Linked DNA regions of Homo sapiens. The protein of the gene in region 1 purifies or fractionates together with the protein of each later gene. This does not show direct contact. Each region holds a gene or a part of one and is shown on either strand. Other genes may lie near its edges. The genes, in order: GSTA5 and EIF3M.

The links.
Region 2: the proteins of GSTA5 (region 1) and EIF3M purify together in Homo sapiens (affinity purification with mass spectrometry; one large-scale study listed by BioGRID and IntAct). This does not show direct contact.

The regions. Positions count from the first base shown.
Region 1 is NC_000006.12:52,834,366-52,837,930, forward strand, and holds part of GSTA5 (glutathione S-transferase A5), read right to left. Parts: intron 3,245-3,565; coding exon 3,193-3,244; intron 2,004-3,192; coding exon 1,871-2,003; intron 1-1,870.
Region 2 is NC_000011.10:32,600,827-32,604,125, forward strand, and holds part of EIF3M (eukaryotic translation initiation factor 3 subunit M), read left to right. Parts: coding exon 1-6; intron 7-935; coding exon 936-996; intron 997-1,452; coding exon 1,453-1,573; 3' UTR 1,574-1,984; coding exon of another isoform or gene 1,985-2,194; 3' UTR 2,195-3,299. Other genes in the region: CCDC73 (coiled-coil domain-containing protein 73), read right to left, coding at 1,985-2,194. UniProt on the Homo sapiens protein: Component of the eukaryotic translation initiation factor 3 (eIF-3) complex, which is required for several steps in the initiation of protein synthesis.

The DNA.
Region 1 (3,565 bases):
CAGATGGTGGCAAAGTAATTCACCTCCAGTTAGTGCCTTTTATACGCTAGTCATTATGCTCTGAGTTTTACAGGTATATAGTCATTATGTTCTGATTTTTACAGGTATATTAACATTTATTTCCTAAAACAACCTATCAAGGTAGATAGATCTCAAAATTTTGTTACACACATGACCTAATACAGGAAAAAGAGCATCGGTGGTCACAGTCATGAGAGAAATTGGTGGAATCACTGCCAATACCCACTGATGCTGTGCCAGGATTTATCATCTCAATTGTGGCTTGTTCTGTGCATGAACTTAGTGTGAGTCAAATGGCCAAAGAGCTGCCCTCTAAGTAATCCTAAAAGAATCCCTGGCACAGCCATCTCAGCCATATTTCTTGTCCTCTCTCATCATTTTACAGCTCCCAGGGCTCCTGTGCCCCATATTAGCAGTTCTTCCAATTACACCCATGAAACACATTTCCACAGCCCTCTCCATGTGCTGTTGCCTAACTCTAGCCATGTGTGCCTTTCCTGAGACCCCACCTAAGAATCCCCTTCCCCGGTGAAATTCTCTATACAATTACAACCAGTGCAAACTTTTCTTCTTTTGTGTCAAACTAGAGTTTCACAATACTTTTTAAAACAAGACCTTTATTGACGTATGTTCACGTACTGTAATTGCAACCTGTTAAATTACACTATTGAGTGGTTTTTGGTGGATTCACAGAATTCTGTAAAAATCATCACAGTCTAATTCCAGAATTATTCTTATCACCCTGATAAGGACATCTGTACCATTAGCGGTATTCTTCATTTATCTCCAAGCCCCACTCCTTTACCTCCAGGCAACCACTAATCTACTTGCTACCTCTATGGATTTGAATATCTGGACATTTCATACAAAAAGAATCCTATAATACTTGGCCTTCTGTGTCTTGTGTATTTTATGTAACATGTCTTTATTGTTTAACCATCTTGTAGCATGCATTGGTACTTCATTCCTTTTCATGACCAAATATCTTTCCATTGCATGGCTAAGGCATTTTTTCTCCTCCATTTATTGATTGATGGATATTTGGGTTGTTTCCACTTTTTGAATACTATGAATATTGTTATTTGCATTGTTCATTTCTGTAAAAAATTTAGTGTGGATGTATTTTTGATTGTTTGGGGATATGCCTACTAGAGCAACTGCTGGGTCATTGGTAATACTATGTTAAAGTTTTTGTGGAGCTGCCAACAGTTCCATTCAGGATTTATTTGTAATTATGCAGTCTCATCACAACAGAGAGGAGACCCCTTGGCTTTGTTGGTATTGAATCAATCTGGCTGTTTCAGCCTTCTATCCATGTGTCAAGGTAACCCCAGCATCCTGGGCACCAGCCTCTACTAGCCCTGCTCAAGTGTTCTGGCCCATATAATTGGTTGGTAATTTAGGTTCCTGGTCATGATTCTTGGAATTACTGGGACCTGAGATTCAGCTTGTTTACAGCCTTCCCTCCCCAGGCCTTCATCTACAGACTCTCAGACATTCTATGCCTTGCCCTACGCTGTTGGCTGGAGTCTAGCCTCTGAAGTTCTGAGTACCTGAATCATGATTCCCCATCCTCCTCAGTTCATAGGGTTTATGAGTGTCTGGAAACCTCAGTCAGGTTGCAGGATCCATGGACTGCATCCTCTTTTAGAATCACCCTTGCCTGAACCCTCCCCATGTTCACTGTTCCCTCATCTCCATGGGACTCTGCAATACTGGACCTCAGCGTGCATCCTCAAGACCCAGCCTGCTGCTGGTCATGATGCCCTGCCATGGTCCCACCCACTCAAAGAAGGACTTAAATCACTCTGTGTTCTCTGTGGATGGAAGAACAGAAAATATACCATACAGGGCTCTCTCCTTCATGTCTTTCCCATAAAGGTTGTATTTGCTGGCAATGTAGTTAAGAATGGCTCTGGTCTGCACCAGCTTCATCCCGTCAATCTCAACCATTGGTACTTGCTGGAACAGCAAACTCCCATCTTAGAAAGAAGAAAAAAAAAGGAGTATGAAGTGTCTATGAAACCCACCCTTTTGGGATGAAAAAAATGGTTATGGAAATGACTAAATTTGTGAAATGAAAAAGAAATTATTGCCTGTTAAGTTTTCACTTGAAACAACTTTTTTCCTTGTTTTGTTTTTTGAGACAGAGTCTCACTCTGTCACCCAGGCTGGAGTGCAGTGGGACGATCTCAGCTCACTGTAACCTCTGCCTCCTGGGTTCAAGCAATTCTCCTACCTCAGCCTCCTGAGTAGCTGGGATTACAGGCATGTGCCAACATACCCAGCTAATTTTTGTATTTTTAGTAGAGACGTGATCTCATCATGTTGGCCAAACTGGTCTCGAACTCCTGACCTCAAATGATCCACCCGCCTCAGCCTCTCGAAGAGCTGGGATTACAGGTGTGAGCCACCATACCCGGCCCAAACAACATTTTTTAAAAGTTTCCTGTAGTTCTTCTTTTTCTTAAGCAGCTTCCTTCTACTTTTTATCCTGTTACTTCATTTTTGTTTTTATTTCCCCTCCAGATACATAGCAGGACTCTTGTATTTTTTGTGTTGATTTATCTTCATGGATGTTTTAGGAAGAGGTTGGGACAAGTTACAATAGGACTGGCAACAGGTGCCATTTAAAATGGGAAGTTCTCAGGGTAAGTCTCATGGTGTTTGCGACATCTAAGGCAGGTTCTGAGAGGTTTTTAATATAAGGGTCCCCTTTTCTGCTCTTCAAAGCCTGCAATAGTGCCACAGTGTTACTTTGTCACGCCCCCCCATGAAAGAAAAACCTCAAGGCAATGGCCACGTCGATTTTTCCTCCTTTCATCTAGCGCATGTTCTTGCGTGTGCTTGGATGGGGAGGGCTCTATGGGATCCTGTGCTGATAACCACAGCTCACTGACGGTCCCCCAAGCATGAAAACAGAAAAAGGGCTTTCCCCGGGGGCGGGATATCATTCCTCTAACAAATACTCTGAGAGGTCTGGTCCTTTTAGCTTGGAGAGAGTTGCCAGACCTGATCAAGGAGCCACATCCCTTCCATTTTAACCACTTTCTCCCTCTCCACCGTGACTAAATATCACCCCCCACACACATAGGTATTCCTGGCTGCTCAACGTTCCTCTGTACCTTCTACTAGAAACTCTCATCAGAGTTACTTAGAGATTGATCTTACCATTTCTTAACTTGTCCAAATCTTCTGCAGATTCTAGAAATTTCTCTTCCAACTGGAAGCAGAAACAGTAAATGGGTTCTTCTTAGTTAATTCTATTATAGACTTGTGATGTTGAATGGCCCCTATCTGGTGCATGATTTGGAGAATATAAGATTTCTGAGTTTCGCAGGATATACAGAGGGGGCTGGTAATGGCCATTTGGAAGTTTAGACCTAATTCATTGAGAAAAGTGCATGGGTCACAGCACATAGCTGCTCAATCTTTTAGTTCACTGCCACCCTGTTCTGATGAATGTCTATGATTAGGTCATATTTTGAGAGGGGACATCACTGGAAAGAAGGCACTGAGCAGTTCTCCTAGTTATGGTGTTGTC
Region 2 (3,299 bases), on another chromosome or scaffold:
TTGACGGTAAGGCAGACAGAACATTTTCATTTATTTCTAGAATTTCTCATCTACTACATGGATCATAGTAAGATTTTTATCTGGAAACTGAGCCTTACACAACAAAGATTTGTTTATAGCAGATGTGTATTTAGTAGATTAGTGGATATATTTGTTGTAGGGTGAAAATTTAGTAGAAATATAAACTGCTATATTCTATCCCTTGAAATCACGTAGAACAAAGACGTTTAGGCAATACACCACTGTGGTTAAGAGCACAGATTTTAGTATTAGATGTGGATTTAAGACCAGGCCCTTCCTTTGTGAAACAGGAATGTAGGGGTTCATTTGTGGTTGTAAGAATTAAATGAATTAATACAGGTAAAGCACAGTGCCTGGCACATAGTAAGTGATCTTTCAAGTGTTAACCATTACCAGTTTTTTTATGATTAGCCTAGAAACAAGAACTTCTTCCCCAACAATTAGATTATAAAGCAACTTAACTGCTCAGGAATTTTTTCTGAGCTTTTTAAATTTGAAAGTTGGGATTATGCAATTAAGATTAATAAAAGGTACAGAACTATTGACCTTTTTTCCCCTAATGCTCTAAGTTTTCTATGAAGAAGTAATAACTTAGTAGGAAATTAGTTTATTCCCCTATATGAGATGGTAGGGGAAGAACACCTAGCATTCTTTAAAAAAAAAAAAAAAAAAAAAACAGCAAAAAACTGTATGCAGTATTTATTTAATATAGATTGTCCCAGCAGCCATAGGACAAATGCATGACCTTTCTTTTGGTTGCCCCATACTGTTTTGCTTATTAGATTTAAACAGTGTATAATGTTGGAAAACAGTATAAAGTTTTATTATGGCTTACTTGGTCACAGTTTTCATACCTTAGCTATTTTTCTTGGAAATTTTCCATATAACATACGATATAAAACATCTTTTTTCAGCCGTAAGAACTAAAATGGTCTACTGCAAAATTGATCAGACCCAGAGAAAAGTAGTTGTCAGGTAAGATATTTAATGCTTTGCAGCATTTTATAGAACGATTTAGTTTGTTCCGATTATTTCACTTAAATGTTTAGAGAACCAAGGTGGTGTTATCACTTGACTGTAGTTAAATAGTTGCTATTTATCATAATTTTATTAAAGTTCAGACTGAATGTGATTAGCTTATTTAATGAAAGAGTCCTATTTTCCAGCACATTTCATTTAATGGCTGAGCATTGGCTAGAATACTAATGACTTTTATGTCTGCTTTATATAGTTGCTCAGGAGAATTAGAAGGCTTAGGATCAATATGGTAAAGATTTTTTTTAAATAATTATGTAATTCTTAAATTCTCTTACTATTCTAAATTAGGTATATTTAATCTTGCTTTTAACTGGATTCAAATCTGTAGTATTATAAAAGAATACCAGAGGCTAAAAGGTTGACTAACACTGTGTTTAATTTTTCAATTTTTAGTCATAGCACACATCGGACATTTGGAAAACAGCAGTGGCAACAACTGTATGACACACTTAATGCCTGGAAACAAAATCTGAACAAAGTGAAAAACAGCCTTTTGAGTCTTTCTGATACCTGAGTTTTTATGCTTATAATTTTTGTTCTTTGAAAAAAAAGCCCTAAATCATAGTAAAACATTATAAACTAAAAAAATTTGCCTAGTCTGGACAGTTATTGTCTCAAATTTATACTAAAATCACAAACTCCAGAGGATATGAAGTAATAAATTACAAGGGGTCACAATGTCTGTCATACAATACATAAATTCTGTTCTTTAAAAAAGGATATTGAAGAAGCAATGAGCACTTTAAAGAAAGGATAATATACAGAGAGAAGACAGAAGTAGAGTAATACAATTTCTTCACATTAGAAAAACTTGGAAAAGCAAAGACAAACTGTAGAGCTTTAAATACAACAGTCATTTTATTCTAGTAAAAACTATACCAGAATTTCAGTTACATAATTTCACTACTGAAAGCACTTATCTACATTATTTTAATCTGTTGTTTTTTTCCAACGTCTCTTCTGCTTTTCTTTTCTTTGGCTGGTTGTCATTTTCTAAACTTAGTAAATTTTCACTTTTATTTAGTTGATTCGTAATGAGGCTCTGCCAGTCATCATCACCAGAAGTATTTTTAGTCGTCTTGATTGCCTGCAAATGGCTTTGTAGTGGAGTTGATATCAGAGGCTTTGTTTTCACCTGGGAAAGATAAACTAATTTTACCTTCGAAATTATTATACAAAAGATTTTAAAGAGTCTGTAAAGCCTCTGCAGTTATGAGTATGTGGTAAAACCACCATCTCTTGGCTGATTTCCACTACCTTAGTAGTTCTGGCACCAGAAAAGTATACAATGTGAATGTGTAGGCTTATGTAGTAGATCTTCAAAATCTCTAATATATAACTGAAGTAAAGTGTACAAAAACTGCCTTTTACTACTTCATGTTTCCTCCCATGCTTCAGAACACCATTGTTGAAGAAACAGGAAGGGCAGTGAGATATTTGGAAGTTGGCATGTTTTCAAGACACTGTATTGGGTAATTTTAAAAATAGTGTGTTAAATAACTTTTTCATTTTAAGGTTCTTTTCTGATGTTAAAATACTTACTGGAAATTTAGAAAATAGAGTAAAGTAGAAAGAAACTAAAAATCATTAGTAATCCCTTATCCAGAGAGGCTTGTTGACATTTTGGTATTATTTGCTGCTAGCGTTTTTTTCTATTTTTAGCCTATTTGATCATTCTATAGAATTTTATGTATTTTCCTCTGTGAGCAGTTTCTTAGGTCATTAAAAACAATTGTCTATGGCTGCAAAATACTCCCTTTTATGGATGTTTGATATATCTCCTACTACTGAATGTTTGTTTCCAGTTTATCCCTACCAAAAATTAATTCGAGTTAATTTCATGCAAAACAATCTTTGATGTTTTTGAGAGATTCCCAGATAAAATTTTCTCTTCAAAAGGAATACTGGGCCAGGCACTGTGACTCATACCTGTAATCCCAGCACTTTGGGAAACTGAGGCGAGTGGATTGCATGAGCTCAGGAGTCGAAAACTAGCCTGAGCAACATGGCAAAACCCCATCTCTACCAAAAATTAGCTGGGCATGGTGGCATGCAACTGTAGTCCCAGCTCCTCGGAGGGCTGAGGTGCAAGGATCATTTGAGCCCAGGAGGTGAAGGTTGCAATGAGCCAAGATCATGCCATTGCACTCCAGCCTGGACAACAGAGTGAGACCCTCTCTCAAAAATAAATAATAGATAAAACAAAAGGAATACTGAATTGTTTTCAAAATAACAATTAT